Homo sapiens: one gene and its partner. The protein of the gene in region 2 purifies or fractionates together with the protein of the main gene of each other region. This does not show direct contact. Each region holds a gene or a part of one and is shown on either strand. Other genes may lie near its edges. The genes, in order: ZDHHC11 and DHRS7B.

Region 1 (3,807 bases), on a different chromosome or scaffold from region 2:
GCCCGACAATTCAGGCAGCGCTTCTTGCAAACGTGATTGCCTTTAATCCCCACAAGGAACAAGGAGGTTGTGAGGAGGGGGAACCAGCCCTTTTCACGAGTGGGGAAAGTGAGGTCAGAGATGCGGTGCGACTCGCCCAAGCCTACCAGCGGAGCATGAGGGTCACACGGCGTCTCCAGTGTCACAGCTCTGGGGCCTCTGCCCGCACCTCCCGACTCCACCTGATGCAGACAGGCCTCCCTACCAGCCAAGGAGCACGCGGGCTCGGTCCACTCGGGGGGCCCTGAGCATGGTCTGTGCTGGGGTCTCCATGGCACCATGCTGGGCAAAGGCACTGAAGCCAGGGAAGGGGAGAGCCACGAGAGTGCCGTGGCACCCAGGAGGGCCTGCAGGCTCAGGGACCTGGATCTCTGCACCCAAAGGGAACTCGGGCTGAGGAGGCCCTGGAGGAGCCCGGCCACACCTCGGCTGCAGTCCCCCCTTCTCCAAGGGTCTCGTGCAAATCTGAGCCAAAAGCGATGTCCATGCTGTAGACGTGAGACCAAATCCACTCCCAGTCTCTCGTCTTTGCTCAAAAGATGCAGAGAATAATCCATCCACAAAAACCAATTCTGGGCAGCAGTTCCTGGAACATACTTTGACTAAACCATCTTCCCTTGGTCTTTCTGCCATGATGATATTTTTTTAAAAGTATCCTTTAACCTCCTTTAATCCTTTCCATTGTATTATGTTCACCTAAGCTTGTTTAAATCCCTTTTTCTATTTTCAACTGGAGGCCAGAGCATGAATGCCGCAGTCCTCCGAAGAGGCAGTTAGGGCACAGCTGCCTTCCCCGCGCTCCTCCTCCCTCCAAGAGTCTTCTGGATAATCCAGGGGTGACGGGTGGCTCCAGGCATGAGCGGCTCCCTGACTGCTGCTCCCTCATACTGCCTTCCCTCTCACAGCTTAGGTTTCCCAAGCAGCAGCCCCTCCAGGCAGCGGACACGCCCTACCCTGCCCCCAGTCCTCCTGGGCTTGAGCCCACTTGTGGGGAGTAAAGACCCCTCATCTTCATCCTACTGTCTGGACAGGACTCCCCTCTTCATCCAGGAAAGAAGGCGGGTCTCTAAGACCACAGAGACAAAAGCCCACAGGATGGGGCAGAGCCATTCACGCGGGGCCTCCTCTCCCCGCAGCCACCCAGGGACATTCTCCTCTTGGTTAGCACAGCCTCCTGCCCCTGCTGCCTGTGTTTAACCTGCAGAGTCCGAGGCCAGCGCTCACAGTCTTCCCAGGACACCAGCGCCGCCTGCCTTCTTTCCGTCCCCCTTCCTCTCTTATCACTACGAAGTATGCAGCCTCCCTCACAGGGGCTCTGCCATCAGCTGGGCCTCCCCATGGGGGCTCCGCCATCAGCTCGGCCTCCCTCGCGGGGGCTCTGCCATCAGCTCCTCAACTTTCCTCATCTTGCTCTCAATGCCGTTGCTCTCTCCGCCTCTGGCGGATGAAGGGACAGAAGCGAGGTTGGCACAGATGCCGGCGTTGGCTGCTGCCTGGAGCTGAGGGCGCCCATGACCCCGGCCCTGCTCTCCTGATGCCCCTTTCCCACACCCAGGCGGTGTCTACACTTGGCACCCACGTGGTCCCTCTCCAGCACCCCTCCTGAGGAAGGCAGACCCTCTCCTTGCCACCTGCCTGTGGGCCCTCACCCCCTCACCTTCCCCACCAGGACCCGCCAGATTGAGCCAGCTCGAGGCACCAGAGCAGAATGAGTCCAGAAGGAAGTGGCACCTGGGGCTAGCATGAGCCAGAGGAGCTGGCCCCACCTTGGCCATCGTGGAGCTGCTCTTCTCCAGGGGAGGAGGCCGGTGGGTCTCCCCGGCCCCTACCATCTCACGCAGCCTCTGGACTCGCTGTGCGGTCATGCAACCTCTCTGTCCCTGCCGGGCTGCTCAGCCTCTCTGGACACATGCTGTGCTCCAGACGGGATGGCAGGGAGGCAGGGCAGGGACCGCCCGGTGCGTCCTGTGACACCAGGCAACGTTGGTCCCCACTCCCACGCACACCAAGGCCTCTTTCAGGTCAGCACAGAGTAGCTGGGGAGCAGGCGTGGTTCTTTTCCCTGGTGATCTTCACAATACAGTGCTGCAGACAGCCGGGGCTCAGCACACGGGGCCTTGAGAGTCCCTGGATCCTCCACTGTGCTCAGGGGAAACACCTCTCATCTATGAGCCTCCACCGTGCTCAGGGGAAACAACCTCTCGTTCTTGAGCCTCCACCGTGCTCAGGGGAAACACGTCTCATCTGTGAGTCTCCACCGTGCTCAGGGGAAACACCTCTCGTTCTTGCACCTCCACCATCCTCAGTGGAAACACCTCTCATCCTTGCGCCTCCACCGTGCTCAGGGGAAATACCTCTCGCCTGTGAGCCTCCACCATGCTCAGGGGAAACACCTCTCGTCCTTGAGCCTCCACCATGCTCAGGGGAAACACCTCTCGTTCTTGAGCCTCCACCGTGCTCAGGGGAAACACCTCTCGTCTATGAGCCTCCACCGTGCTCAGGGGAAACACGTCTCATCTGTGAGCCTCCACCGTGCTCAGGGGAAACACCTCTCGTTCTTGCACCTCCACCATCCTCAGTGGAAACACCTCTCATCCTTGCGCCTCCACCGTGCTCAGGGGAAAGACCTCTCGCCTGTGAGCCTCCACCATGCTCAGTGGAAACACCTCTCATCTGTAAGCCTCCACCGTGCTCAGGGAAACATCTCTCTTCCTTGCATCTCCACCGTGCTCAGGGGAAACACCTCTCGTCTATGAGCCTCCACCGTGCTCAGGGAAACACCTCTCATCTGTGAGCCTCGACCATGCTCAGGGGAAACACCTCTCGCCCATCTGCGCTGGGTGCCCACTGCCCTTCCGTGGCCCCACCCTTGTGCTGGATGAGCCTCAGCCTGGGTGGAGAGAAGGCAGCCCAGCCCAGGACAGCGTGGTCAGGAGGCCTCAGCCAGCGTGGCCCCGCAAGTGCCCCCGGGGGGCCTCCAGGGACTTACTCTATGCGGATGAGCTTGTCCAGGGACGGCTGCACCACAGCCCCAGAGCCAGACAGGAGGCCGGGGCACGCAGGCACCAAGCGCCACCACATCAGGACAGGGACGCGGCCCCAAGAGGACCCTCCACCCTTTCAACACGATGACCCCTGCCCACAGACCCCTCCCTTCCAAATTCCCCCAAGCCTGGCCCGTGCCGGCCATCCCCTCTGTGCCCCTCACCAATAATTCCGGCTTCCCACGCAGTTGTTGATCCATTTGCAGTGGTGGTCGAAGCCGGACACACACTTATTGCAGGAAATGCAGTGTTTGGTTTTCTTGTTCCTGGAGGGATGAATCGGGGAACGCCTGTCAGGCCCCAAGTGCGCAGGTTGGGGCAGGGCCAGAGGTCCATCACTGGAAGCCAGGTGCCTCGGAGGAACCAGCCCTGTGCGGCCTGGGGAGAGGGCGTCCAGCAGGGAATGGGAGGCTGGGGGAGGGTGTTGAGGCCTGTGGGGAGGAGGAGAAGCAGGGCAGCTGTGGGCAGAGGTAGCCACAGAGCAGGAGGAGCTGTGTCTTTGGCCGCCCTGAGCATAGACCCCCCGCCAGCCGTCCTACACCAGCCTCACTCTGGGCCATGGCCCTGGAGGAGGCCGCGCCTGCCCCATGGTTCCAGGAGTTGAGGCCGGGGGCTTGGATCCCACCTGTGCCTACAGGGCCTCCCTTGCAGCTGACAACAGCCCTGTAGCCAACCCCTAGGCCATCACAGAGGCCTCCAGGGCCCCTGGAGACACTGGAACCCT
Region 2 (3,807 bases):
GTCCCCTGAACTCTGCTACTTTGTCACTGGTGTGTTTGGTTTTGGTTCTTCCAGGAAGAGTCTGCCGAAGGTGAAGGCCATGGACTTCATCACCTCCACAGCCATCCTGCCCCTGCTGTTCGGCTGCCTGGGCGTCTTCGGCCTCTTCCGGCTGCTGCAGTGGGTGCGCGGGAAGGCCTACCTGCGGAATGCTGTGGTGGTGATCACAGGCGCCACCTCAGGGCTGGGCAAAGGTGGGTCCTGGAGGCAGTGCTGCCAGGGGGCGGGGGTAAGTCAGCCAGGGATGAGGAGCGGCCCAGCTGCACAGGGACCACCAGCGCAAATGCCCGAAGCGGCAGCAGAAGGCCAGATAAGGGAAGTGGGCCGGATGGCACTGTCCTTGGTACAAGTGGAAAAAGCAGGAGCCAAGGCACAGTGAGAAATGACTCAGCGTCAGGGTGGGAGGCAAGTGTGAGAGAAGCAGCCTGGCCCCGGGGGTGGGGTGGGGTGGGGTGGGATGGGATACCTGCCCCTCACAGGGCAGCCCTGCTCAGCCTCAGTTGCTTGCTGAGGTAGGAATTTTATGTGAAATATCCCAATTTCCAAATATGGACAGCTAACTTAAAACGTGTTTTTACCTCTATGAGGACCAAATGAAACATGTCCTTTCCTAGATTCAGCCGGGGCCTCTGGTTCACAGCTTTGGTGCATGCTTTCTCTGGGCCTTGCCATCCCAGGCCAGGCCCCCAGCTGTCCCCTCAGCATGGTCTAGACAAGGTCAAAGACAGATAAATGGTGCCTCAGCTGTTCCAGGGTCTCCAATCTAGGTCCATTCCAACCCAGTGAACACCATGAGCTTCTAAGTCTCAGGAATGGTGTACCGGGACCCTGGCCTGGAGTGTCAAAACCTGGGTTCCCCCTTCTCCCATTTCTGGAAGCCTCTGAGTTACAGGGCTCCATTGTTTTCCTGCCACACACGTATATTGACTTGGCACGTTGCACATGCACACACCATACCATCTGCCATCCACGCTTACTCTGAGTTCCATGGAAGAAAGCTGAGGAGTTCCCTGAATTGTGGTGACCCCACCCGCTGCTACATCTTCTGGTTGGTGATAGCTCAGCTGGAGCTGATGGAGCACCTGCTAAAGTGGGAGGCTCTGGGTCAGGTTCTAGAACAAACAGATGAAAGACAGGGTCCCTTCCTTCAAGGAGGTCACGGTCGTCTGTTGTAAGGAGAAAGGCAAGGACTTATCTCAATATATTGCCATTGCAGTAACATATGCTCTCAAACCAGCCTGGTGGCAACAAGGCACATGTATATGTGCTGACTTGTGCTAAGCACTTTTACATGCATGATCTCACTGACTTCTCACAGCTAAGATTCAGAGAAGGAATGACTAGGACTTCCAGCCAGAAGGTACAAAACCTAGAGTCAAACCCACATCTCTGTCTCTAGAACTCACAGTCTCAAAGCTTCAGCAGGGGAGATGGCCAGGTAGAAGGAATAGGTGGGCTAGTAGACAGAACATTCCAGACAGGCCCAGAGGTAGGGGAGAAGCACGGTCCTGTAGGGACTTATACAGTTGGGTGTTGCATGAACACAGAGAGGCAGGTGGGTCTTTGTGGTGGAAGTGGCTTGCAGTTGGCCAGGGGTGGCCTGGGAAAGCTTTAGGGAGTATGGATTCATTTGTGCACCACTGTGGATGTTAGGTGAGGTCTCCAGGGGTGAACACCATATCTGTCATTGGATATCCAGACCTTTGCAGGGACAGCTGTCTGCAGGCCCTTTGCCATCGTCAGTCCTCTGACCTTACTCAGTTACTATATATAGGGTGGTCAGCAGCCACTTCTCTTGAGCTCAAAGAGAAGCATTTTGTGAAAGTCCTTGAAGAGCATTTGAGGGCTGGCAGAGGTGGAGCTCTGAGTCGCAAGTGCTCCCATCCATGCATGTTTGAGAAGCATGCTGTCATCTTCATTCTGCATCTCCTCTCCTGACACCAAGACTATGAAGGGAACAGAAAATGTCACGGAGGTCACCAGACCTGTCTATGTATCATAAGATGTCAGGCCCTTCCTGGATTCCAGTCACTGCTTATATTCTGCCCCATTTAACTTTTTGGGAACAAGAGTCCCTCCATCCAGATAAAGTAGGGCAGGTTCTTAACTGGCCATGTCAAGTACAGCCACTGTTGATGCCACCAAGGACGTTCTGATGTTGCCTTGCTTCTGTGAGGAGGCAGAGCTATGTTGTCCTCAGTGGCTCTGCCTGCCGTGTCAGCCACCCGGAAGGTTTGGAGTTATGCAACGAGTCTTCAGTTTTCCGTGTTTCTCCTATCTTGTCTCTTGTTTTGTGTACTTAAGCCTCTTGAGCTTGTCCTTGTAGAATAGTGTGGGACCACTGACTAAAGGAACAGAACGTTCTGGATATCTCCTTCCTCCAGCTTTAGCCACAGGGCTGTGCACAGCTCTGTTGATTTCCAGCCAGGCGTGCCAGCGGCACTGGACAGTCATCTGCAGCCCTTCATATATCGTACCTTGGAGTTGTTTTCCTTGGACCCTCCTACCTTCCAATATCAGCTTTTCAATAAATGAAAATGGAATCCTTCCAATCTGTTGTTTTCATTTCTGTCACTCCCTACACAAACTTTCATTTCCTCTCTTTTTAGCTTTGCTAGGAAGCAAAACTCAAACAGGTTTGAGGCAGTCATCTCCCCAAAGCTGTTTAGACTCCAGCGGGACTCCCACCTTTGAAGGGTTCTGTGTCTGCACCCTTTGGTGGCACCTCACAAATGTCCTATGTATTGGTCAGGACAAGACAAAATGGGGTGAGGAAGCCAGCAGGGCCCAAGGTTCCTAGCCTTTGGGAATGATTTATAAACCGGATGAGCAGTTCTAGCCTCAGGAATGCTGGCATCTGGCTTGGAGTGCAGCCATCACCCCCCTCATTCCTGTGGGGGCTCTGCTGCTCTGCTGAGAAGCGCACCAGGGAGGCAGGGTTGGGGCGCTGGGACCAGGCCTCACTACCCAGGGTGGGTGCTCTCTCCGGGCTTTTGCCCTTTGTTGGGATGAGCCAACGAACACACCAACCTCACCTCCTTCAAAGAAGATAGTGTGTCTAGATTGAGTCTACTTAGCACCTCTTTCCCGAAGACTGTCGGGTGTATGGAGAGGCGCCTGGGGGATGAGCAAATGCTGTGTGGGGAGCTGAACAAGAAGCTGTGGAGCACACGGAGGCTTCACACCATGAGACAGACGTCAGGGAGCCTTCCCTCAGACCTCTCAGGACCCCTGGTGCTGAAGGAGTTTCTTCTCCTCCCATGTTTTGAACCCATCTAGCTTTAAGGAAGTTTGACACTTCTCTAAGGGCAGGCCTGTTCAGACCAGTACACACCGCCTGCCCCTCTGACCTTTCCTTCCCAGCTGAGGAGATGGCAGCCCTGATCCTCTGACCCTGCAGTATTGGCCCATCACCACATGGCTACCAGAGATGGAATTAGCCTGCAAAGGCCATTCCCTTTCATGAACCAGGAGCTAGGGTGCCACCTAATCACCTGGGCCTCTAAGATTCGGTCTGGAACCAAGTCAGTGGCTCACTGGTGTCAGGTCAGGGTCAGCCAGGGGCCAAGGTATCCTGTGCAGATCTGCTGGTGAGCACTTAAGGGAGACTATGCCTCAGGTGAGGACAGGAGTGCCTCTTTAAACCAGCATGTGGCCAGGTGCAGTGGCTCATGCCTGTAATCCCAGCACTTTTGGAGGCCCAGGCAGGAGGATCGCTTGAGTTCAGGAGTTCTAGAGCAGCCTGGGCAACATGGCGAAACCTCATCT

Evidence for each region.
Region 1: the proteins of DHRS7B (region 2) and ZDHHC11 purify together in Homo sapiens (co-immunoprecipitation; one large-scale study listed by IntAct). This does not show direct contact.

The regions. Positions count from the first base shown.
Region 1 is NC_000005.10:844,267-848,073, forward strand, and holds part of ZDHHC11 (palmitoyltransferase ZDHHC11), read right to left. Parts: intron 3,515-3,807; coding exon of another isoform or gene 3,350-3,514; coding exon 3,248-3,349; intron 1-3,247. UniProt on the Homo sapiens protein: Endoplasmic reticulum-localized palmitoyltransferase that could catalyze the addition of palmitate onto various protein substrates and be involved in a variety of cellular processes.
Region 2 is NC_000017.11:21,171,964-21,175,770, forward strand, and holds part of DHRS7B (dehydrogenase/reductase SDR family member 7B), read left to right. Parts: intron 1-54; coding exon 55-233; intron 234-3,807.